Linked DNA regions of Homo sapiens: regions 1, 2, 3 and 5 are each linked to region 4. Evidence: fine-mapped expression QTL. A gene starts in region 4. Each other region holds a variant in brackets. All regions are shown on one strand. Distances are from middle to middle.

Evidence for each region. PIP is the estimated chance that this variant, and not a neighbour inherited with it, causes the effect.
Region 1: its variant is fine-mapped to the expression of TAS2R60 in whole blood (TOPMed, PIP above 0.99).
Region 2: its variant is fine-mapped to the expression of TAS2R60 in sun-exposed skin (GTEx, PIP above 0.99).
Region 3: its variant is fine-mapped to the expression of TAS2R60 in whole blood (TOPMed, PIP 0.98).
Region 5: its variant is fine-mapped to the expression of TAS2R60 in neutrophils (BLUEPRINT, PIP 0.95).

Annotation. Positions count from the first base shown.
Region 1 is chr7:143,414,603-143,419,698 of GRCh38, reverse strand. It overlaps EPHA1-AS1 (EPHA1 antisense RNA 1), which reads right to left. Exons shown (of 5, transcript NR_033897.1): 2 at 4,500-4,631. Among named protein-coding and RNA genes, the nearest start is that of EPHA1, 8.3 kb to the right of the region's middle. The variant G/C (reference allele first, on the strand shown) is at 2,626.
Region 2 is chr7:143,493,608-143,498,747 of GRCh38, reverse strand. The region is part of intron 2 of EPHA1-AS1 (EPHA1 antisense RNA 1); the gene reads right to left. It overlaps LOC105375547 (a long non-coding RNA gene), which reads right to left. Exons shown (of 2, transcript XR_928075.3): 1 at 3,352-5,140; 2 at 1,976-2,782. Among named protein-coding and RNA genes, the nearest start is that of TAS2R41, 18 kb to the right of the region's middle. The variant C/A (reference allele first, on the strand shown) is at 2,782.
Region 3 is chr7:143,405,768-143,410,767 of GRCh38, reverse strand. It overlaps EPHA1 (EPH receptor A1), which reads left to right and starts at 1,912. Exons shown (of 18, transcript NM_005232.5): 1 at 1,912-2,044; 2 at 3,090-3,157. The coding sequence starts at 1,963. EPHA1-AS1 (EPHA1 antisense RNA 1) reads right to left here and starts at 2,955. Exons shown (of 5, transcript NR_033897.1): 1 at 2,882-2,955. RefSeq lists an enhancer at 1,228-1,840. The variant G/T (reference allele first, on the strand shown) is at 2,031.
Region 4 is chr7:143,440,832-143,445,971 of GRCh38, reverse strand. It overlaps TAS2R60 (taste 2 receptor member 60), which reads right to left and starts at 2,519. Exons shown (of 1, transcript NM_177437.1): 1 at 1,563-2,519. The coding sequence starts at 2,519. The coding sequence ends at 1,563. All of the region lies in intron 2 of EPHA1-AS1 (EPHA1 antisense RNA 1), which reads right to left.
Region 5 is chr7:142,627,812-142,632,951 of GRCh38, reverse strand. It overlaps TRB. Among named protein-coding and RNA genes, the nearest start is that of PRSS1, 120 kb to the left of the region's middle. RefSeq lists an enhancer at 105-399. The variant A/G (reference allele first, on the strand shown) is at 2,477.

The DNA of each region.
Region 1 (5,096 bases), 26 kb after region 4:
CGTTTTTACAGAAGGCATTGCTGGGGGACAGAGATGGAGGATGCATTCCATCCCACAGCCCACTGCAAATCTTCATAAATGCCCCTTCCGTATCTTGGCCGTTTTTAACCAATGCTGTCCTCCCGAGCATCTGAATGACTCTGCCTGCTTCCTGACCTTTTCTCAACAATCCTCATCCAGGCTTTTCTGGTTCCCTGCCTGTCAGTCTCCATTGCCAACCCCATCACTCAAAGTCTCCCATCGGCCAAACAAAATCCTAATTCGTCACCATTGTCTCTAAAGCATTTTCCCAGAGGTCAGAAATTTATTTCCAGCACCCCTACTTTCACACTGAGGTAAGGTTTTTTTGAACCAAAAATATAACTACCAATCTGAATATGGTTATTGGTTAATTTCCCTCACCTCTATATCTAAGCAGCCAACATACCCTGTCATACTACAAGTGAAATGTCACTCATCGCCTCCCTCTATCCACTCATTGCCCAAGTTTGAGCTCTTACTGTTTCTTCCCTGGATCATTATCTCTCTGATTCCAGTCGCTGCCTCTTCCAGCTCTTCCCCCATTCAGCCACCAGAGCCCAAAATGCTCCTCTGAGCACGTGTCTCCCATATTCAAAATTTTACTGGTTCCAGGTTAGATAGGGAAGAAAGTTCAAAAAAAAAAAAAAAGAAAGAAAGAAAGTTCAGTGTAGTTGGTCACCGAGGCTGACTCCAGCCTTAGCCCATCTCCCAGTTCCCCCTCTTTAGCCCAACTCAGCCAGTCACACCACCCTGCACGCCATTCCTTGGACAAAAGCCATTTTCCCATTTCGTACAGGCATCGAGCTGCTGATGCTTGTGTGGGCCTGAAACATTTGTCACACAGCTGACTCTCCCCAGCCCCTGCACAGTCCTGGAAACCCCGCTTCAAGCCCTCTCATCTCTTATTTAGACCAAGACAACAGCCTCCTAACCTACCCATGCTTCTGCCCTCAGCCCTCCCCTGCCTTGCCCCATCTGTGTTCTGCACGCTGGGCAGGTTGATCTCTTCAAAGGTAAGTCAGAGAATATGCATCTCCTTTCACTGGACTCCCTCTAATGGCTTCCATCTCACTCAAAGTCAAAGCAAAAATCTGTGAAATAGCCTGGGAGGCCTTAGGTGTGCTGCTCCCCATCCAACCCCTATGACCATCTCCCTCCTAAAGCTCTGGCCTCCCTGTCCTTCCATGAACCCCATGCATGCCTGCCCTGGACTTTAGGGCTGTTTCCTTGGTCTGGATTGCTCTTCCCTCTGATGACTTTTGTAGCGCATTCTTTTCCTCCTTCAATTCTTTGCTCAAAAGTTACCATATCTGTATAATAGAGCCCTCCTTATGTGATTCCTATTCCCCTAACCCTGTTTTAATTTTTCTCCCAGTGTGTCTCACCATCTGAAGAATGCATTTTGTTATTTTTTTATGTACTGTCTGGCTCCTCCCCCTAGAATGTACACTCAGGGAGGGTGGGGTTTGGGTTTTTTTTTTTTTTTTCTATTTTGTTGTTTGCTGGTATATCCCCAGCACTTAGAACAGTGCCTGACTCATAATAAGATCTCAATAAATTTTTGTTGAATGAATGAATAAAAACTGCCTATTGAAGTCATTCTACTAGGCTCAACACAAAGGCCACCTTTTCCCATACAGTTCCTGTCAAAATTAGCCTCCTGTATTCCCTTGGCCACTTGCTTCTGCCTCCACCTTAGGGCTTACCTCTTTCACATGGTGCATCCCCCTCCCACAGAGGTGCTCCTGGAAGGTAAATGAGTCCATTTGCATGTGAAGAAGCTCAGTCTCAGAGAGGTTAAGAGAAATGTCCAAGGCCTTACACATAGGAGGCAGAGAGCTAGGAGTCTACAGAATCCAAAGGCCACTAAATACCCATTCCATTAACTCCTAGTGCTTCTCAAAAACAAACAAGAACTTTCTAAGCAAACACTCAGTACGGTGGGTATCAGGTTTTAATTTTGGTCTAATATTTAGTACTTCCCCAGAACTGTTGAAACAAAGAAGAAAGGAAGGAAGAAAGGAAGAGAGGGAGGGAGGGGAAAAGCTTCAGTCACTTCTTAATTGAGGCTCTGTTCAGACAACACAGCAGCTTCAGTGTAAGAAGACTTAATCAGAGCCAGGTGCGGTGGCTCACACCTGTAATCCCAGCACTTTGGGAGGCCGAGGCGGGCGGATCACCTGAGGTCGGCAGTTCATAGACCAGCCTGACCAGACCAGCCTGACCAACATAGAGAAACCCTGTCTCTACTAAAAATACAAAAAGGTAGCCAGGCATGGTGGCACATGCCTGTAATCCCAGCTACTTGGGAGGCTGAGGCAGGAGAATTGCTTGAACCTGGGAGGCGGAGGTTTCGGTGAGCCGAGACGGTGCCATTGCACTTCAGCCTGGGCAACAAGAGTGAAACTCCGTCTCAAAAAAAAAAAAAAAAAAGGATTGCTTAAAGCCAGGAGTTCAAGACCAGTCTGCCAACATAGTGAGAGCTCATCTCTTCAGAAAAAAAAAAGTTAGAGTGTAAGCATCTCTCTCTAGCTTACAACCTAACAGACACACTACAAACAGTGGGCACCATTTTTTTCCCAGCCAGCGCCTCCTAGGTGACTT[G/C]GTTTCTGGTTTTTTCATATGTATCCAAAGCAGAAAGCCCAAAAGTGAGGCAACATGGTGGCACACCCCACCCTCCCTTCCTCACCTGGTCAAAAGTCTATCATTACTGTGATGACTAGGTCAAGTTAAGAAAGCTACTTCCTAGCCTAAGGGCCTACCATCTTTATAATAGTAGGAATATATAAAAATCGCTGTCACTTTCATATCATGTTGATAAATATTCCCATGGTATTCTAAGATTTTATAAACAGAAATTATCTGTGGCTCTCACACCCAGAATTTGAAGATATAGGTGCAATTACCAAATTTTCCCACTAGGTGGCTCTCATAGTTTATGACCCATGGCCTGGATCGCCTAAACTCAGGGATAGATTTGGAAATGTGTACATTAATTTCTTAACAGAGGTGGTTGTTATCTATATGTTCAAATGTGTCTGTGTCTGGGTAAGTAGATTTATAATACTTTCAAACTAGAACTTGTTAGAAAAAGATATAAATTACCCTATTACGATCCCTTTATAAATAACTTCTTCAAAGCAAAATGTAAAAGAAATCCAATCTGTGCCCAATTAAGAGGTCCCATACTTATCAAATACTTCTTTTACAAGACAACAATATAATATTACCTCCTGACAACAGAACCAGTAACTTCAAATAGTAAGCATGGGTTATGCCGATCTTCTTCCCAACCCTCTGTAGAAGTTACAAGAACTCCTAGCCTAGCTAGAAATAAAACTGAATGTTTTTCAAATAAATTATGCTTGCTTAATGCAGAAGACAGAGCTGATAGTTTATTTCAGCCCTCTCTTCTCGCAGGCTAGCTAAATTAAAATGGACTTCAAGACATGGCTGATTTATCACTTTCTCTTTCCCTCCTGAGCTCCAACCAGTACACTTTTTGACAAGGACCAAGCTATCGCTGTGCTCCCGGGGGATTCCAGTATTTAACACTTGTCTCAACCTGTTCTTATTAAATTTCTGTCATGCCCCAGTTCACTGAGACACATTTGTTCTCTTCCTTTCCCTCCCTCACTTCTACCAGCCCAAGCATTAAGGCAGCGTATTAACTTCTCAGGTTAGCAACACTATCTTCTCAGGCAGTCAAGCAAACAAGTTCAGGTGGAAACACAATGATTTCTCATGAGACGCGCACAAATATCATCGTAAGATATTTGAGTCACAGCCACTTCACATGACTAACCCCTCCACATTTTCATTTCATGACTCAAGAAATCAAATGAAATATTAGAACAATTGGGAATGGTTTTATTTGTACTTTGGTATGAGATATGTGCGGAATGGGGGTAAGGAAGGTATTGAGATAAAGGCTTGTATCTGAATACACACTTGGATATAATGCACAACCCTGTGTGAATTCCCGTTTGACTCCCTTTTTCTCTCCCAACAGCTCCAGAAACGAGCCCATCTCACTCCCTGTGGCTGCTACCATCCACCCTTCAACTTCAGCTTCCCCTTCCACGTGTCCCATCACTAGAATGCAATGCAGGTTCACAGCTTGTCAACTACCTTCTTGTCTCTAAAACAAAGAGAATGATTTAGAGGATGTTAATACTGCAGAGATACATTTAAAAAAAATCAGCACAGGGAGAATTGCCATATGTCCTGAAAATGTTAGAGTGGTATTTATTTTATTTTCATATTGCATCATAATGTAAATGGGTCGAAAGTGATCTCTCTTAGCATCTTTTTTTTTTTTTTTTGAGATGGAGTTTTGCTCGTTGCCCAGGCTGGAGTGCAGTGGCACAATCTCAGCTCACTGCAACCTCCGCCTCCTGGGTTCAAGCAATTCTCCTGCCTCAGCCTCCTGAGTAGCTGGGATTATAGGCGCCCGCCACCACACCCGGCTCTCTTACCTTTTTCTTTAGTTTTCTCTTGCCTCTTCTTGAGATTGAAGCTTCATCCAAACATCCCTTTTAATCCAGAGGCTGGTGCTACTTTCAGCAGACTTTATCCTTAATTCCCTCAAACCCATCTTGCAAATAAACCTGTACAGGAGGACACAAAAATAAAAAACATGTATCCTTAAATTGCATGGTGCCACCAGAAGCTTTTGCTTGTACACTTTCTCATATTTGTACTTTTCTCATATACTATGACCAACAACATTATCATCATTTCCCCCATTTTGCAGATGAGGAAGCGGAGTCTCAAAACAGCTAGGTGATTTGCCCAAGATCACTTGGCTATGAAGTGACAATATTAAAATCTTCTAAAATATAACTTTGCTTTTGACACTTCAGAGAAAACTTCCAACCGCCTCTATCTCAAAACAGTTCTATTTCTAGCAAGAAGACAGATTCCTAAACAGTATCGGGTGTCTTCCTCTTAGCAAACTGACTGGAAGAAGGGAGGACATGCAGGGTTTAAGGGGGAGGGTGTATAATTGGGACCTGTGGCACTGCTTACAGACCGCCTCTGCATACTTTTAATCAATTAAAAAGTTGTTAGGA
Region 2 (5,140 bases), 53 kb before region 4:
AACATTTTCTTTTCCTCACTCCTGAGACATGACACAGATTCTGTCCCATCTTTACAGCCGAGCCCGTATCAGGCTGGGGAAACTGAGAAGGGCCTTTCAAAAAGAATCAAATAGGCTGCTTTAGAAAAATATTCCACATCGGCCAGGTGCGGTGGCTCAAGCCTGTAATCCTAGCACTTTGGGAGGCCAAGGTGGGCCGATCACCTGAGGTCAGGAGTTCAAGACCAGCATGGCCAACATGATGAAACCCCATCTCTACCAAATATACACAAATTATCCAGGCATGGTGGCGGGTGCCTGTAGTCCCAACTACTTGGAGGCTGAGGCAGGAAAATCACTTGAACCCAGGAGGTGGAGGCTGCAGTGAGCCAATATTGTATCACTGCATTCCAGCCTGGTTGACAGAGTAAGACTCTATCTCAAAAAAATAAAATAAAATAAAATAAAATAAAATAAAATAAAATAAGAAAAAGAAAAGGAAAATATTCCATGTGCCTTGGGTTTAGTGCTCAGAATCTGATTACCTTGTAGCTGCTTGGTGCTGCGGTGTGCCCTGTCCTGGCTGCGTTTCAGCAGGACGAGCTGAATAATGAAGAGAAGAGATGCCCAATTCTCTGTCCAAGATGGACACCATATGGAGAATTGCAGGCACAAGGATAACACTTAGAGAAAAACAGATCAATCTATATTTTCTTTATTAATTCCAAATTTCTGAAGCCCTGAGGCACCTACATCAAAACCCACAACCTTTGGATTTGAACACTGAGATTTTGATAAACTAGGGAACTCAGGATATGACATAAGGGAAATCTTCCATTTCATGAGAGGGCAAAACCTTCTCTTTCTGACACAGACTTGGGAATAAATAAAGGAAGAGAAAGGTAGAAGAAGCAGACATTCAAATATATGTGTTCTAAACAGCCCTCCAAGGGACTGAGGCCCTGAGGATGAAGAGATAGGATAAGAAGAGGCCAAAGGTGGAAATACTTTCCTGATCCCCATTTAGAGCCCTACCAAGAGACTGTTGTTCAGGGTGACCTAGAAACTCCAAAGATGTTGAGGGACGATAGAAAAGCAGCAGTGAAAGAGGATGGCAGGCAAGCCAATCTGAGCATGCTCCTGGCTCCCTAGAATATGGAATTCATGCCTCAAGTTCCTGTTTGTCTCGAATGGGAGGTGCAGATACAGGAAGCAGCTGGGAGCTCAACCAAAGAACATGCCAGAGGGGATCAGCTTGGTGGAGAAAATGTGGCCATATCACTGAGAGCTACAGAATGGACTTCCCAACTCAGGGCTCCAGAAGAAATCAGTCATGTCTGGGAGGTGATGTGTGTGTGTTTGGGGGAATCACAGCATTGGAAAACCAGAAGTGGGACCATTTCAACAAGAAGATGGCCACCAAGCCTTGACAAAGCCAAGACAACAAACAGTCCATGGGTTCCTTGGCCACAGCCTCCAACAGTGGATGACACAGGTTGGATCCACATAAACTATGTCTCAACAGAAACCTGCCACGTGAATAAGCAAAGATTCGAGTGGTTGTCCAGCTGCAGAAGCCAGCACCAGGACCAGCACAAAACAAGAGTGATTCTACATATCCATTCAAAGCCCCACAAGTCAGTACTATCAGGTTTTGTCTTATGCCCAGAAGCCCTGTTGATAAGGAAGAAAAAGAAATATACCACTCTGATATAAGGTAGAACTTCAAATTAATTAAATATTTACCTGGAAAGATCATTTTAAGTTAACAGAGACCATTTATACTGTAAAAAAACTAAGATACCTTTAATTGGTATATTATATTGTTTGCTTTTTGTCTTCTTTCTACAGTACCCAACAGAATGGAGACTCAAGAAAATAATATCATTATAGAAAACAAAATAGCTACGTCTTCAGGGAACATCAGTAAAGAGTATTCAAATTCATTATCCTAGCATATAGACAAGTTGATCTTGAAGTAAAAATTGTCCTGGACTTCATGTTTGCACTTGTAATTTATTAAGGAAAGACTTCTTTTCTAGAAATGGAATGCATAATGCCCGTTCAATGTTAATACATAATAAGGAAATTATGTAAAGTTTCAATTAGATGATTCTTATAAAGCTTTTAGTATTCATTGAATTTTAGTTACTCATCCTCATTAAGTGTTTTCCCCTAAGTCATTTATGAGAAAAGACCAAAGCATAGAAATGCCACTTTAAATTTTTCCTACATGTAGAGATAGGAAACAGAACAGTATTCTAACTCAGTCATGCCAGAGCTAATTCATGATGAGTTGTATCCGAGGCTGTTGAAGCTGCTGTCAAGCATAGCAGTCATCAGTTCCGGTAAAATGCTTCCCAGAAGGTACCTTTTACATTCACTGGGAAAGATGAGGAAACGTTAATTCTGGTAAAAATGGAATGGAAAGAACTGAATGGAAAGGTTAGTAACTGAGAACCAGAAATAGTAGTTCCCTGGGAGTGAACTAAATTATTGCTAGTAACAGGAAACTCTTGAGGCAAGGAGATACTGGGGTGGGGAAGGAGAGAGTAGGAAAGTGGTTAGTGGTGGGGCAGTTCCAAAGGAGTGAAAGAGGGGAAAGACCCAGGTGAGCAGCATGCCTGGGCCCACACAGATATCACAGGAAATCAATTATGTCCAAGGCTGTGGGTCTTTCATTGCCTTCTTTAGTGAAACTCCTGGTATTGGTCAATCTCAAAGGAAATGATTCTTCCCCTCTCAAGTCCAGTTTGGAACTCATGATGGAATGACTTTAGTCTCAGACCTCAGAATCTAGTA[C/A]CTAGAATGAAAGGAAAATGTTGTAATGCACACACTGAAAAACACAGACTTCTGCAGGACCTTGAGGTCCAATTCCACCATTTGGTTTCACAAACAAAGAAACTAAGACCCAGGGAGATTAGGTGACTTGTCAAAAGTCATAGAGCAATTTGTACCAAAGCCGGAGTAAAACCCATTGTCCTGCCTCTAGTCCAGGGTGTTTGCCACCATAGAATATTTCCAGATTTATTTTTTATGGTATAAATAGTCGAAAACCTATAGTTATATCTACTTTGCTGAGATACAGTTTTAATTGTATCTTTCCTTGAATGCTCACTTATGTTGCCCAAAGGCTATTCAGTAGTGCCAGGCATTAAGACAGCAAATTCATTTCCTAATATCACTATCTCAATGCGATACGTCTATATCAGATATGTGAATTTTTTAAATTTCATTTGGATTCCTATGAGAGAAAAAATATGTGTTTATTATAAACATTTAAAAATATTTGTAACAGTTTGTTCTCTCATTGTTATAAAGAACTACCTGAGACTGGGTAATTTATTAAGAAAAGAGGTTTAATTGACTCACAGTTCCACAGACTGTTCAGGAAGCATGGAGAGGAGGCCTCAGGAAACTTATAATCATGGTGGAAGGCGAAGTGGAAGCAGGCACATCTTACACGGCCAGAGCAGGAGGAAGAGAGACAGCGGGGAGGTGCCACACACTTTCAAATAACCAGATCTTGTGAGAACTTAACTCACTATTGGAAAACAACAAGAGGGAAATCTGCTCCCATGATCCAATCACCTCCCACCAGGCCCCTCCTCCAACACTGGGGATTACAGTTTGACATGAGATTTGGGCAGGGACACAAATTCAAGCCATATCAATATTGATAAGCTAAAAATAAGAAAACAAAAATATCTATAATCCTATCACCCAGAGATTAACCCACTGACATTTTATGGTCATCTTGCCTGTTCTTTTTCTACTTTTCAATCTTTATATACATCCAACTGTATATATATTATATTTCCTACTATTTTCTAACCTACTTTGTAAAAAAAAAAATCTAGTTACATATTTTCTGTAACCTTAGTGCTTGGAAAAGTAAGAAGGATGCATTTTTCTTTTTTACCAGCAGGGAAACATTCTTATTAGATGAGAGTAGGAGGTAGTGTGGAGGATGGTTCCCAACAGTTCTTTTCCTTTACACTGGAGTCATCTGTGTCAGCTCATACCGAGTCTGCCTTTGAAGTGCATCAGGGGTCCCACCTCTCAGATGTCATTTTCTTCTTCTTCCCCCTCATGGTGCCCTTGGTTTTCTTTTTACTGCTGCTCTCCTCCTTAACCTTTGGCTACAACTCTCAGTCAGAAGTTCTAGCAGTTTTCTCCATCCACAGACCTTGAGGTGGGGAAAGCTTCAGGCCCTGTGAGGTCCTGAGCTTACCTGGGCAGTGGAAGCAGCAAAGATAAACCCAAGATTCTTCAGGTCTTGCCCAAAGGGGAAGAGCATGAAGTTAAACAACAGTTCCCTAGTCCATTGTCATTACAATGACAAATCTTCCAGGTAAGTAAACCTTTATCTTGCAATATTGGCCAATTGTTATAAAAAAAATTTAGTGGGTTACACACTGATGTCTCTCTTTTTTCTCCCCATTTTACCAAAGACTCATGTTCTATTACTATAGAAATAAATAGTTAAATATTGGGAATAAAACCTCATCCTGACCCATTGTTTCCTCTGCTCCTTCTAGTAATTCCAGTGAAGAAATTAAAACTTTGTGGAAGATGGCCAAGAACCGGGAGATCAGTATTAGGAAAGCTGATAAAGAAAAAACTTCTAGTAATATGAAAATATGCAAAGGAAACACAACAGGAATGTGATGTGGGAGACCATCAAAGAACCTGCAGAACTATTTTAATGACTGTGAACTTGAGACTTCTCAATGGCTCCCAGGCCATGGATGTGATGATTCTAATGTGCGATGTGTCCTCACCACTCTAAAACTAGATGTCACTGTCACTAAAACTAGGTGTGTGGGAGGAGGGGTGAAGGTGCTTTCATTTTCTTCCTTTAGGAAGGAGACCAGGTTCTAAAATTTTAGTTTCTCTTTCCTATCTCAATTACTTTCAGTCCCTTCTCACCAGGTCAGAAAAGTAAATGTTTCTGAATCCCAACTTCTACTAAAAGTCCTCAGTGATGCCACAGCATTGAAGGGCAGTAAAAGATATAAAAGAGTTACAGAAGGGCTCATTATGCTAGGAACTAGAAGGACAATTAAAAGTTGAAATAAAATGTTTTTAGAATATGTATTCCACAGGGAACTTAGTAGAGGAGGGAGCTGTGGTTGCAGAGAAGTAGCTGTGGGGAAGA
Region 3 (5,000 bases), 35 kb after region 4:
CTCTGTATACACATTTTAAAAGCATGTAAGTGTGGGAGTAGAGGGAGAGAGGGAGGGAAAAATACACGATGGTGTGTACACAGCGAGGAAGCAATCCTGGGAGGACTTACAAGAAACAGTTGATGGTGGTTAACTTGGGGAACAGAAATTAGAGTGTTGGAGGGCAGAGGGTTCTACTTCCCATTTTGTTTCTGTATGTTCAACATGAATTTCCTAACCAATGTACATGAATTACATTTATTTATGCAAATAAGGATAGTCTGAGCCAAGAACTGATGGGCCGTGTTTGTCATATACGTATCTGCATAAGAAAGCAAAAAAAAAAAACAAAAAACCTGAGAAGCATTACATTTTGAAAATGAGAAAAAGCACCTATAATCCACCACCTCCCTTCATTCACAGTACCGAAATGTGCAACAATGTAAATGATAGAAAAATTATGAACAATTTACCCAGATGGGATGGAGCGAAAGAAGGAGGGGCCAGGAGTGGACCCCCAGCCTCTTTAGTAAATGCATCACTCCCCTTTGAGCTACTGTGATCCCTGTGTGTACCTTGCCTGGGGTCCACTCCTGCCCGCCATTTCAATCATTTGTGCAATTATTTATGTCTCAACCCCCAGCATCCCCAAATTAATAGCTTATATAGGGCAAGACATTGTCCTTCTGTTCTTAGGTGCTTCTAGAGCTTCCTGCATGCATAGCAGAAACTGAACAAACATTTACTAAATAGAATATAAGAAAGTCTCGGCAGAGCGCAGTAACTCAGGCCTGTAATTCCAGGACTTTGGGAGGCAGAGGCAGGGAGATCACTTGAGATCAGGAGGGATCACCTAAGGTCAGGAGTTCGACACCAGGCTGGCCAACATGGTGAAACCCCGTCTCTACTAAAAATAGAAAAATTAGCTGGGTGTGGTGGTGCACGCTTGACGCTTGTGATCCCAGTTACTCGGGAGGCTGAGGCAGGAGGATCGTTTGAACCAGGGAGGCGGAGGTTGCAGTGAGCCAAGATTGCACCACTGCACTGCAGCCTGGGCCACAGAGCGAGACTCCATCTCAAAAAAGAAAAAGAATATAAGGAAGTCCGCAAGAAAGTGAGAGGGCACGTGGTTTGACACCACTAAGATGGGTTAAAATATCCTTCCCTGCCACCTGTGGCTGGAACCTTAACCAGATATTCATGTCTGCTGTGTAAGTGCATGTCAAGGTTCAAACTCCTTTTCTTGTTTACCCAGCCCTGGCCCACACCTGCCTTTCTGCCCTGATTCCCAAGACAAATCCTGCGCCCCAGCAGTCAAACTGGTCCATTCACCACTCCCTGGGCGCACCTTGAGGCTCCCTGCCTTCAGGCCCTTGCTGGTGCCTTTCCCAATCTCTGCCACTGAAAACCCAGGTCACACCAGCTCTCCCTGAAGACTCAACTAATGTGCCCCGATGACTGGGCTTGCTTCCTCTTCTAATCTCCAGATGCTTCACTGCAGGTTGTACCCCACCTTGCATTGTGGTCATCTAAGCCTCCCCTGCTAGAGGGTGAAGATATGACTCTTACCCCTTGCCTTCCCCGGCCCTATTACCCAGCTCTGGGGCCTGCACAAAGACAGAAAGAGGAATATAGGAGTGTAATTCAAGTCAGAGGTAGAATTAGGTTAAAAGCTGGATCAAGATTGGGTTGAGTTTAGGATTAGAATTGGGAAAAGGTTCGTCAATTCTTAATCCCACCTACTAGGCGGCGCCCGCAGTCTCATTCGGGTCAAGACGCCTCCGGTTCTTGAATTTGATTACCAGTCTAGCAAGTTTCTTTCCTGCCCTACTGTCCCTTTAAGGAGGTGAACCAGGTGAGGCCGGGACTCCGCCCCCGGCGCTGGCCCCGCCCCCCGCCCCCGCCCGGCCCGCCCGGCTCTCCTAGTCCCTTGCAACCTGGCGCTGCCATCCGGGCCACTGTCCCAGGTCCCGGCCCGGAGCTATGGAGCGGCGCTGGCCCCTGGGGCTAGGGCTGGTGCTGCTGCTCTGCGCCCCGCTGCCCCCGGGGGC[G/T]CGCGCCAAGGAAGGTACCGACCCCCGCCCCCGCGCCCCCAACCCCCGCGCCCCGCCCCTTCCCGGGGCCCGGCCAGCACCCCCCTGCAGAAGCCGGCATTCCTAGGGGCCATGTTCCCCGAGACCCTCGCCAGCTCTCTCGCTGTGCCCGACCGCCAGGCTATCGACTGGCCAGGCCCATCTTTGGTCTTTAACCCCAAGCGGCTGCTCTCCCGGGTCAGTCACCCCCACTCCCGCAGGCCAGCAATCTGCTCCTGGGAGTGGGGAGGGAATTCCGGACCCTTGCCAGGAAGTAGCACCTGCACCCGCACCCCTGCCTGCATTCCCAGACAGTCCCAGCTTCAGGTGCCCACCCCAGAGATCTGAGCCCTTGGAAGTTGAAGGTGGGAAGTCGCCTCCTGCCAACCTAGGCCAGGGACAGAGGGAGCTGCCTCCGGGAGAAGGGTTAGGACTGACGCCACAGGGGTTCCCAGTTGTCCGAGTCGAATATTCCATGTGAAAGTTGGAACACCCTCTCCGGCCTTACTCCCCCCCACTTCCCAGGCAGGTAGCTGTGCCTCTTATCCCCACTTCACGGCTCTGATCACTGGCCAGGTCAGGCCAAAGCAGGCTTCGGACAGTGGAGGTGAGCCTCCCTACCCAGGAAACCCCTTCTGAGGTCCCCGGTCCACCCTGCCCACTCCTGGCTAGCAGAGGTGAGCTCCTCCTGCCCTCCACGCGTTCCAATCCTGCAGCTGATGGGTGTCCCAGGACGCAGCAGCCTGGGTAACTGAGCGTCTCGTGGGGCTGCTCTTCTTGCATTGACTTTGGTCAAAGACCCAGCGCCCCAACCCTTGTCCCACTCTACCTGCCTTCCTTCACACACACAAAGAAGAGTGAAATCCCTGGAGCTCTTCACTCCTCAGTCCTGAGCCCTTTTTCTCCCCTAAGCCTCAGGAAGTCACAGCTTTTAGGAACAGGATGTTGCAGCCTGGGGCTGAGGCCCCAGAATGATTAATGTGGGCTGCAGGGGCACCTCCTCCCCCAGAGGTGACAGACTTCTTTTCTCCCCACTTTCAGTTACTCTGATGGACACAAGCAAGGCACAGGGAGAGCTGGGCTGGCTGCTGGATCCCCCAAAAGATGGGGTAAGTGTCGGAAGAGGGAAGGATCTTGGAAAACTCCTGAAGGCCAGTGGGAAATGGGGTGGAGAGGTGGGTGGAGGAACAGAGAAAAGAGCAGGAAAAACTGGAAGTGTCTCCTCAGGGAGGGGGAGAGGAGGCTGAGTCAGAGCCTCCTCAATGGGACAAGGGGTGGGGGGGTCAGACTTCACCTCAAGATGAACGCTTGAATGGCCTGGCTCCTCCAGTGAATACTTGGGAATATTGTGAATACAAGCTGATACTTGTGAGGGGGAGAGGAGCTCACATACCCGGGGAGAGAATGCACCATGCTGGGGATGGTTGAAGGCTGAGACCAGTGCTTTGCTTGGGGAGGGATAGAAAAGGCAGAAAAGCATCCTCAATCTGAGATCCATTCATCCCAATGAAGTTGCATTGATAGGTTTCAGGGGGTGGGGAAACCCCATGAAAGTGTACTCTAAATTCTGTATATGTAAGCGGGCATTTTTTTTTCTGGAGAGACCAGCCAAAGCTTTCATCAAATTCTTCAAAGGGTCTTTGACTCCTCCGAAGTTAAAAGCTGCTCCCCTAAAGGTTTCTGAGCCCTTAGCTCATCCTCCACACCTCCTCAGGCTGACTGCGTGCACACCATGCATTCCAGCTGTTTGAAAGTGTCAGAGCTTGTTCCAGTTCCCTTCCTTCCTTGGATGTTCCTAAGACTCAGTGAACAGGTTGTGAGGTGGGTCTGAGAGAGCATATTCAGACTCAAATGCAGAGAGCAGCTCTTATGATGTACAAAAAACCAAACTCAGTTTTTTCCTACTGCACTCTCAACACAAATCACTTCGGTGACCTGTGGTCACCAAAATGCGTGTAGGGATTCCTCCCGCCTGCAGTCAGTTCTCTCTGGCAGATTCTTCAGTGGACAGTAGCTGAGTGTCCTCTAATCTTATTCAGTTCTTACACTATCTACCTGGAGATAGCCTCAGGTTGAGGGCTCAGCCCCACAAGACTGCCCTCCTCTAGACAACAATCACAAGTAACATGTTGTCACCTATACTTCTGTTCCATCGGCTGTAATCAGGTTTACCTGACCCTCCTCCTCGGGTTCAATTAGTTTGCTAGGATGGCTCACAGAACTCAGGGAAACATTGACTTGGATTTACTGGCTTACTATAACGGTTATTACAAATGGTACCATGAACACCAGATGGAATAGCTGCATGGGGCAAGGTATATGTGAAGGAGGCGAGCCACCCTGCAGGGACCTAATCATGTATGGCCATCCAGAAGCCCTCCCAACCCCATCCTTCTGGGCTTTTATGGAGACTTCATTACATAGGCGTGATTAATTAGATCATTGCCCACTGGTTATCAGCTCAACCTTCAACCTCTCTACCTTCCCTGGAAGTTGGGGGTGGGGCCGAAAGTCCCAACTCCAATCACAAGGTTGCCTTCTGCCACCCAGGCCTCCCCCACCCCAGTCTAGTTCCCATCCCCGGCAGTCAGCTCACTAGCATATAAAAAGACATTTGTCACTTCAGGGATTTTGAGGGCTTTAGGGGTTGTTTGCCAGGAAATGTGGACAAAGACCAAATATATATTTTACAATTCACAGCACCCTTTCTGCCAGCAGCACAGCTGGTCACAGAACCACTTAGGGGGCTGCCTAAGTTACTGGAGCATCTACAACTCTGGCTCTGGAACCCCTTCTCTCAGGGTTTCCTTCCTTACCCCAGTACTTGAGACTTCAATCCAGCCCCTGTTTCTGGGGTCAGGGTTACTTGCTTTCTTTCCCTCTGGGTCCTACAGTCCTGGCTCCGTTCTCTGTTCTCCTACAGAGTAGCCTGTAATTAGAGCTAATAGACTA
Region 4 (5,140 bases):
AACTGGAAGAAGATCCTAGCATCCGTCGCCAAGAGAACAACTTTTAGAAAGATGCGCAGATGGGCAATTATGGGTGAGGTTTAGTTTCCCTTTTAAAAAAATCTTTCACCAAGATCAGCAGTACTTTTGTAAAAATATTTTTCATCAGTTTATTTTAAGGAAATCATTTGTTATCAACAGAGGCAAATACAACAGAGACATGGGAGGATAAGGGCTGGGGACAATATCACATTTAGTGACAAAGAGATCGTGTGTGTCCCTGTAGAAACAAACATGTTTCAGCAGAACAGGGAAGCAGGAGAGGATTGGAAGGCACACGGGAAGACCCTGCAAGTGACTCATTGGCAGCACAGGGGTACAGGGAGGGGGAGGAGCGAGACAGATAAGGGGATTGTTTTCAGGAAAAAAGTTTAGAGGCACATTTGTTGAAGAAGGGAAGGACAATAAAGAGGGAAAGTTGGAAGATTTGTGTAGAAGTAGAAATCCTTGACCTAGCAGCAGAGAGAAAACAGGCAGGAGCAGGGCTAGGATCACAGATGTCAGCCTTGAAAAGCCAAAAACAGAGACCAGTCCTCTAATGTAGAGTGTGGTGGAGGTAAAAACCAGGAAAGGAGGCGGAGAGATTTTAAAGTGAATGGAGGAAACTTGAGGGTTGTCTCGTTTGAATGATTCAGGGAGTAACTGAACTTAAAGAACGTTTGAGAGGAGCTGGGAAAAGCAGAAAGGCAGTCTGAACATGGTTCACCAAACACAAAGGCTTTTTCTTCTTAAATCTTAGGTCTTAGACAGATACAGATAAACTTCCCCATGTCAGTAGGGGAATTACAATAGGTCCCAATATCAATCAAAAGAAGTTACATCTGAACCCACAGACCTTAACAAATACAGAGGAGACTAACAGGCTGGGCTATTATAGAGAACATGAACCACATACAAATCATAGACCCCTGGCACTCAGAGGGATCTCCAAAGGTCATCGGAGAATACACACATCCCTGGCAACACACACTGCCACACACATGCACCAATTACACTATGCTCTGTGTAGAAGGTTTAGACACCAGAAACTCTTCCATGGAAAGAAGGAGAGAGGCACCACATTAGATGGCCAGAAAACTTTGAATTGATGAGAAGGGAAAGGTGGTTCACAGGACAAAGCCTGAGAAAACTGCAGTTCCAAAAACATGCCCCAGTTCGATTGAACAGATAAAATATTGCATGAAGTTTGAGGATCTTTGCATCCAGTTCCCAGAATGATTATTTTAAATACGAAGAGATCGATCACAGGAAAAATAAAGGCTTCTGGATTCTTTGACCACATCAGGTCCCACAGGAACCATGGCCACATGAACTATGCACTTGGTGAGTACATAACATGACACTAGCCCATATTTCAGGACCTTTACTCTCACCTTGTATCCTATTTCATTGAAGTTATTTTTCTAATCATTAACTGTAGCAACAGAGAGAAAACATTCAATGTGGCAAAGAGAGAAGCTATGTCCCTTTGAGTCCATGCCTTCTCCACAAGAATCTCCTTGAAGTTTTTCATCAGCTGTGGCTCAAGGTGTCCCACACCTTGAGGAACGACGACTCTTCAGCACAGCTCTCAGCCTGCAGTTGCTGAAGAGCAGAATGATGGGGTGAACTGCTGCACACAGATAAATCACTGACTCCCACACCCAGAATTTAAAGTCCAGAGGTGGAAAAATACCTGCAGCACTGAACACCAGTGACAGGAAATATGAGATGAAGAGCATGGCAAAAGAGAGGAGAGCCAGCAGAGCCTTTATGTGTGCCTGCACACTGGGCTCTCGGAATCCTGAGGTTGTAAGGAGAGCCTTCTTCCTGTGTCTTCCCAGAGATGTGATGAGCAAAATCATGCAAATGAAAAAGACAGCAGTGGGCATTGTCCAAGTAATCATTTTTAGAGGGAAGAGATAGAATTTCTCACAGTAGCTCCGTATGCTATCGCCAGTGACATTCCAAGGTTGTAGATGGTTCCTTAAATAGTTCTGATACATTCTGTGGTTGCCTATGAAAAATAGAATGGTGGTGAAGCTGGAGAGCCCTACAGAGCTGAAGAGCATCCATGGTAGCCACCCAGACAACTTGTGCTTTAGCCAGAAGAAGACAGGGTGGGTGAAGGTAGCAATTTTCACACAATAGAAGACACTGAGCCAGGTAGAGGACCATAAGGTGGCAGCATTCAGGAAGTCCCACTGGAAAGCTAGAAACTGCAGTACAGGGTTGTATGGGAAGGCCATCGGATGCAAGAAAACATAAATGGTCTTACCCATTACCACTGACTGCAGACAGAAGCGAGAGGCCCCTAGGCTAACCAATAACTTATCACAAGGCAACAACATTCTCCGTAGCACCCACTCCACGCCCAGAGCAGCAGTGATGAAGCCATTGCCTGCTATTGCTACCAGGCGTAAAAGGAGTAAAATGGTAACCAAGATGATGGCCTTCTTGTCAGTCACCGAAGATCCTAGAACCATGTGGTCTCCATTCATCTCTCTGGTGGACAAGATGGGTCCCAAAACTTCAAGGGCTATCTCTGTTGGGTTGCTCTGGAAGGTCCTGTAGGATATGTTTGTCCCTCCAGCTGCCCCAAGCGCAGAAGCTAGGCCAGAGTAGAGGACGCAGGCTATCAGAGGAGGGTGAGAGGTTTTTTCTTCTCAGAGTAGATGCAAATATTGTCAAGGCTCAATTTTCAAAGTCCCCATACCTGCCCAAAAATTTGCCTGCTCTTCTGCCTATTCTCTGCCCATGTCAACATCAAAGTGGATAATATATCAGGCCCTGGCATTTAGTGTCCTTACACAGGAGGTTATACTTCTCTAAGCGGACACCTATGACAGGACCATGCACCTGCCAGCTCAGTAGTATCATCCGTGGGGCACACCCGCTACTGAGACAGCGCTCACATCCACGGGGGGGGGGTGATTGTTATGTTGCAGGCATTGTTCTGAGTGCTCTCCTTAGTTCTCACAACAACTCTATGCGGGGAGTAGTATGGCAAGACCCCTTTAACTGAGACAGAGAGAAAACTGAGCAAACCTTTACAGAGAAGGATTAATTCAAGTCTTATTACTCACAGTGACCATCATCATAAAAAAAGAACACTGGAGACAATTATACATAATGAGGCAGGCAACTTTTTTCAAAATTTAAAAATATATATTTGATAACTGGTGGCCTCTAAAATAGCACTTCACAGAGGAACCCCCAGTAGCGATAAGCCAATGGGATATGGCAGAATGAGCCCTGTGCTAGGAGTCGAGACAGCCTTTAGTCCAAACTTTACCCCTTACTGTGAGTTGCTGGATATGTCAGCCCCTCTGCGCCTCATTTTGTCCATCTGTAAAATATGAAAAGTATCCTATGTTCTAATTCACAAAGATGTCTTAGAATCTCGGCTTAGAATGAAAGAAGACATGAAAGATAATCTTACAGATAAAAGAAATAAGACCCCAAATTATATATTACAACTCCCACCTAAAGTCACAGTTACACAGAGGAAAGACCAAGATCCAAACTGATTCCAGGACCAGGAATCTCTGCCATGGTTAGCAATACATGTTACACCTCCATCTTCTTCATCCCTAGCTGAACTCAGAAGCCCAAGTTTTGAGTCTTGTCACAATCACTACGGATCCTCAAGCAGTTAACCTCTCTGAACACCCCCCTTTCTTCACCTATAAAAAATATGGGTCACAAATAAATATGACCATAAATATGGTAAATATATTGGAAATTATAAACCTCTGCATATGGACAAGGAGCAATGATGATGATGACAATTACTTTATTAGAATGGCTATCTTCTATTCCATCCATCCTGTGGCATAATAAGTAGCATAAGGAGAATTCAGGAGAGCATCAGGGATGCAACAGAAGTTCAGGGCACCAAATGTCAGACCACTGATATCAACCAGAGAAGGACAGAGTAAAAAAAAGACCACATTCTTTATAGAAATCAGCTTCAAAGAGTCAAAAAAATCAGCAATCAACACCCAGGTGAGTGTAAGTAGGTTAACGTGTCACAGGGAGATAGGAAAGCAGGAATTGTTCTGGGTCAAATACAGCAATATTGAAGGCTCAGGATCAAGTAACATGACAGTAAGGGGATTTGTAATGAATACACATCTGCTGACACCACAACCTACCAGTTCCATATATAGGACCCCCACAAAAAGGGAATAGAACGCATGTCAGCATCTCTTCCCAGTTCCCAGTCTACTTCCCAGTAGTCCACTTCCAGGTGGAATTGTTTCTTTAACACATACGCCAACCATAGTGGACATAGGTCTTCGGAGTAAAGGAAATAAGATGAACTAAGGTAATTCACTCTGCCTTTCTGTGAAGATGCAAATTTCCAGGAGATAGAGTTCCCAACTGCTCTCTTCCTTGCCCTTGTTCTTCTGGCTGACATTTGGCTGTTTTCTACTGGAACTTGGAGAAATGGGGCAAACTTCGGGCTTATAGCTCTGGAGTATGGCCACCTACAAACCGCCCAATATGGAAAACTTGAATCTTTTTCATCCACCTCCCACACCTTCAATGATAAAGATGTGCATTTAACCTTCAATTCATTTAATAATAATTTATTAAGCATATCCTATATGCCATGATAACCCTTTGAAAGACATTGGGCTACAACAGTGAATTAGATATCTGCCTTCAAAGCACTTTTATGGGCTAAACATAAACCACAAACATTTACTGGACATATACTATGTGCAGAGTAAGTTAATCCAAAAGAGGGAATAATCATTTGAATTTAAATATGCAATGTGTTTCGTGGTGATTCTTTTGTTGTTTGTTGTTTGTTTGTTTGTTTGTTGCATTTGGCTTTCTCATGTCTAGATTTATCTTCTTAGGTAAAAGTCAAGTCTGAGAGTTTTTAACTTTTCATAACCAGTCTTTATAAATGTAATCATGAGGGTAGTAGGATAGGGATCCTGAGTTAGCTCTCTATATGGAAAACCTTCAACTCAGTACTCTCAACAAGTGACTCCCAGTCTGTGGCTCTATGTGTTAGGGATCTTGCTATTCCCATCCCAAGATCTCTCAGAAGAGTTGAGAAGTAACAGCCCCATAATTGTGAGACAATAAAGATGCTGTCTTGCAT
Region 5 (5,140 bases), 810 kb after region 4:
TATTCATTTATATATTTATCAACTGTGTAGAAATCACACAACTACAGGTGCCAGATATGGGTAAACGCTAAGGGTTATTACAAAATGTTAAGATTAGATCCTGCCATTTTAAAGACCAATTGGCCTCCCAGGATATCTGCAATTTTTTTGGTCAGTCAGTACCTAAACATCTCATCTGAAATATCCGGTGAAGCTGTGAGTCCCCACTTGATGAGCGGCAGATATTTTATAGAAAGATCCACATCACCCTCTAGTGGTCAAAGGAGCGAATTCATCCAATGCCCGCGGAGCTCTGCCTCGGCCTGCCTGAGTCGGGAGTGGCCCGCCCGGCAGCGAGGCAGCAAAAAGGCATTCCAGGTATCAGAGCGAAATTAAGAAAAAAGCAGCACTTGATGTGCTACCTGCCACATACTCCACAGCATTGTTACTAGCAATTACTTACACAATTATTCAGCCATTAGTCTAATGCCGATGGTGGTTTATCAGTGCATTTTGCCTCCCTCAACCTTTTATAGTCCCCCAAGGCAGGTGTGCTCCCTAAACCGCTATCCTATGCTCTCTGATCTTTTCATTGTAAACTGTATATCAAGGGATTGGAGGCACTTTCATTCTTCCAGTGATGCTAAATGTCCCAAAGGTGTGCTTCTTATCCAGATCCATTTTCTGAGTCCATGACTTGTACATCCAACTGCTCTCTGCATATTCCTGGTTAGATTACTGTCCCTAAGGCACTCCCAATCTCAAAGTAAATCTTGATCTTCTTCCCACTTGGTCCTTCTTATTTGTCTGTGTGTAGCAGTCTCTCTTAATCACCACCCACCACCCCCTGCATATTGCTGCTCATGTCTAATCAATTGCCAAGTCCTTTGATTTACTTCCTTTTAAATGTCTCATTTTCCCCATATTTCTAACACCATCATCATTATCTGAGCTAAACTACTGCTTGCCTGAGCTAAGTTTTTCCTCCGCATCAACTCTGTTCACACTGCTGGAGGGTGGCAGCATAAGCCTCCCAACCCTCTGCCCAAAATATGCCACTTTGGCATAAGGAATATTTTGAGCTAGAGGCATTAAAGACAATAGCAAGTATAAGAGGAGTACTCTGACCCTTCCCCTTTTCTTCTTGAAAAATGGAATAAGCTTCCCATATAAAAGATGTCTTATCTATACCAGGAAAAAAGAATATTCTTAACATCCAAGATAGAATGGGATGATGTTGAGGCCAAGGAATCTGTAACAAAAAAAGCTTGTTAAACTAATCCTCACCTTCCTAGTCACTTTGCCATTCAACCAGCAACCCTAGCCTAAGCCCCTTTACTTTTTCACCTTTCCACAATGTATGACCCTTTGCCCAATTCAATATATGAATGTTCAACTCTAACTGCACATTCAGTTCTTCCTTTAATTATGGGGGCTTTCATGTGATGTAAAACTTGTATTAAATACATGTGTATGCTTTCCTTCCTGTTAATCTTCCATTCTCAGGACCAGCCGAAAAACTGCAAGAGGGTAGAGGTAACATTTTGCCTTCCCTGCATGGTCCATTATTTCTTCACTTTGTGACCAGGGTGATTAAATACACAGATACACACACAGCCACGAATCTGATTACTAAAGAAGTCAAATGTTGAAAACCTCAGTGTCTCCTATTAAGCTTTATGTTGGATTCTGTATCATTTACCTTGACCAGTAAGGTTCTGAGTGGTCTGGTGCCTTCCTGCCTTCTTCAATTTTGCCCTGTACTCAACCACCTCCTCCCCCTGCTCCTGTCACTCTGCTGACTTCTTTCCTGTCATTAAACACACTAATTTCTTTCCTGATTAAAACATTTTGCACTGGTTCTTTAATCTTTCTTAAATGCCCTTGAATTCATTATCCCTCGTCCCACTTAATTAACTCTAGCTCATCTTGATGTAAGGTATTTAGGAATAATATTTAAAATTTCTTCCTATACCTTTTATTAAAAGGAGGATAACAATTAAATATGCAATATCAGGGGCTTCAGACTCTCCAGGGAGTATTTCATCAATAATTACTTTCAAGAAATTAGACATAGTTCATTTTTTAGGATAAAAGAGTCTTAACTGGTTTTCAAAAATGGCACCAGATAGGAGATTACAGATAAAAGACACTCACATATTTATGGGTAGTTAAAATTGACTACTGGTCAGTTAATAGGAGTCACACTGCTTTCCACATTCCAGAATGGAAAAACAGCAGCAGAGGTATGAAGTTGAGAAGTAGCTTATCAAATATTCATCTTTGGACACCTGAGATGGTGCATGTACTATAGCAAATGGGTTGAGACTCTGGGAAACCAGTTCGAGAGATTATTTTTGACATTAAGAATGGGGATATCCAAGGATATAGAGGAATTAGACGACCCTAGCTCCCTTGAAACCTCTGAAATTCTTCCCATGGCTTCTCCATTACTGGGAAAAACAGTGCCTCCGTGTGTGTGTGTGTGTGTGTGTGT[A/G]TGTGTGTGTGTGTGTGTGTGTTGGGGAGGAGGATGTAAGAGTCTGTCTCTTACCTCACCCATCACTGCCTCTGAAAGGTGAACTTGATTTTAAATACAACAAAGCACAGAGAGTAGAATATAAAATCAGAACAAAAAGTTCAACACTTCAAAAAGAATTGCTAATCAAAAATTTATGTCATTCAAAATTTACAGGAAATGTGATAGGATTTTATTTTGTTGGTACTTGTCCAAGGAAGACAGAACACAAATATGGACTGAATGCTGTTCAATGCTGTTGTCTCGTTTCCTAAGGTAATATAGGTAGGCAGTAGGCTGTGTCCTTGACAGTCAGCTGGTTTGGGAATGTCAGGTCTGAACCCAGCAGCGTTCCATGCTAAATGTCACCGAAACACTACACTCCTCAGCTTAACGTAGACGGAAATAGTGACTGCGTGAAATAGGAATGTAACCACTGTCTCCCTGTTTCATGCCAGAGCCTTAAAAGCTCTTGTCTTTTCCATGCCGTTAGTGAAGCAGTGGAATATTTTATAAGTATTTTACTAGCTCTGTTCTCCAGGCTGAAAACGCTAACAGAGTAAAAGGCTACAACTAAAGTGGGTCCTGAGATCAGTGGCAATGGCACAGTCTGAGGTGACTGAACCCAGGTGGGGTATTTAACCACCAGCAACACACGGTCATAGCGGAGACGAAAAGCAGCAGCGTGTTCACTGCAGAATTGGCTCCCATCTTGTTCCAGTCAGTTCCACCTTGGTCAGGGGCCAGGTGTCATCTCCACGCTTTCACGTTCACCCTTATTGTCTAAACCCCTGTTCTGTGTTGCAAAGGGTTGACAAGGGTCCAGGTCTGTTGGGTGGTAGGTTGTCCGCTGTGATTAATTCAGCAGCCGATATCTATATGAGGATGGTAGCAGTTAAGCCACTGCTATTTCACTCCTGGTTTTGACTATAAAATGCCCTTGATCCTTTTCTTGTAAGAACTCTAATCTATTCATTTATTTGTTTTCTCTTCTTTTTGATGCTATATGCATTCAATTTTATTTATCTTAACCTGTGGTTCATAACACACAGGCATTGCTTGTCAATGAATATTTTTAAAAAACATAATAGGAACTTGTAAAACTTCTCCTCCTCAACATTATGCAAGATAGACCTTGATAATATTTCAATGTATAGCCATATAGTTCTCTCTCATTCTATTTCCTGCCATGCCCCAGCCTTATAAAAATCCTGAACTTGGGTCATTATTATTCCCTGCCAGTAGTGTGTTGGTAAAGGGTAAAGGGTTGACAGCTAAGTCTGGAGGAAAATAAAGCAAACCGTAATTTGCTGTGTTTGCTAATTTCTGTAGTGTAAATACCCTCACTATGGCCAATTTCAAGCTAACAAAATGATGTCACTAAAACTGGAGTTGGGAAAAATGTATACAGTCAGCTCCCATGAGCTGATAAAGTAGGCTCCAGCATACAACTCATCTTTGCTTTCCTTTCAATATAATTTGTTCTAATATATTTTAGTCCTGAAAATTATTTTCTTGACTTGTTTTTAGCTTTATGAAAAGCACATTATGCTTTGCATAATCTCATTAGACTTAGTTTTTACATTTGCTATTATATTGCTAAGATTCACCTATAACCTTGCTCTTCACTATAGTTCATTCATTTTGACTCATATGAATATGTCACAGTTTATTCATTCACTCTTCTCAGTGCATATGTGGCTTGGTGCCATGTTTTTCTACTGTTTGGTGCTGTGAAGAACACTTTTTTATTTATGTCTTCTGATATGTGTATGCAAGAGCTTCTCCTGATGTAAACCTAGGAGTGGAATTGCTGAGTTATGGGATATAGGAATCTTCAACTACGAGATAATGCTGAACTGTTTCCAAATGGTTGATAGTACTTATGCTCCCATCAGTAATTTATAAGTAATCCTATGAATCCATACCCTCGCTAACATTTTATATTTCTAAACTTTTTATATTTTGCTAATCAAGTGGATATAAAACTATGTATCATTGTGTCTTGCTTCATATTATCCTGATCATCAATGAAGTGAAATATCTCTATATGTTTATTAGTCATATATGTTTATTCTATTAAATGTATGGTCATATGTTTTGCTCATTTTCTGTTGGTTCATACAGATTTGTGGTCAATGTAAATGTTTGGTTTCTCCTAGGAAAGGATTTTCACTGTTCCACTTACTGTCTTCTAACTACTGGCAGAACTTTCCAACTCTGTAGACAAGCCATGTTGTCTGAGGTCTTCCTTCTAGGTACCTCTGCCCCCTCTTCCCCTTGACACCTTTCCCAGGAGCCAGCTCACCAGCACCTTCCCTAGCGATACATTCCGTATGGTGTGTACCTAGGCATAGAGGGTGCTCCCCTCCCTTTGTACCGAGTCTTACTCTGTTCATTCATCAACCGAAACACCATGGAGAACATGATGGCGTTCAACATTTACAGGAAATGTGATAGGATTTTATTTTGGTGGCCTGGTCTAAGGAGGACAGAACACAAATTTGGAGTGAATGCTATTCAATGCTGTTGCTATCCTCCCCTAAGGTAACGTATTCATGCATAACTCTCTACTTGGCTGCCTCTTGGTTATCTTTGTCTTGAGAGCCCAGCATGATGACAAGAAAGCCAATCGCTGAAGTTTAT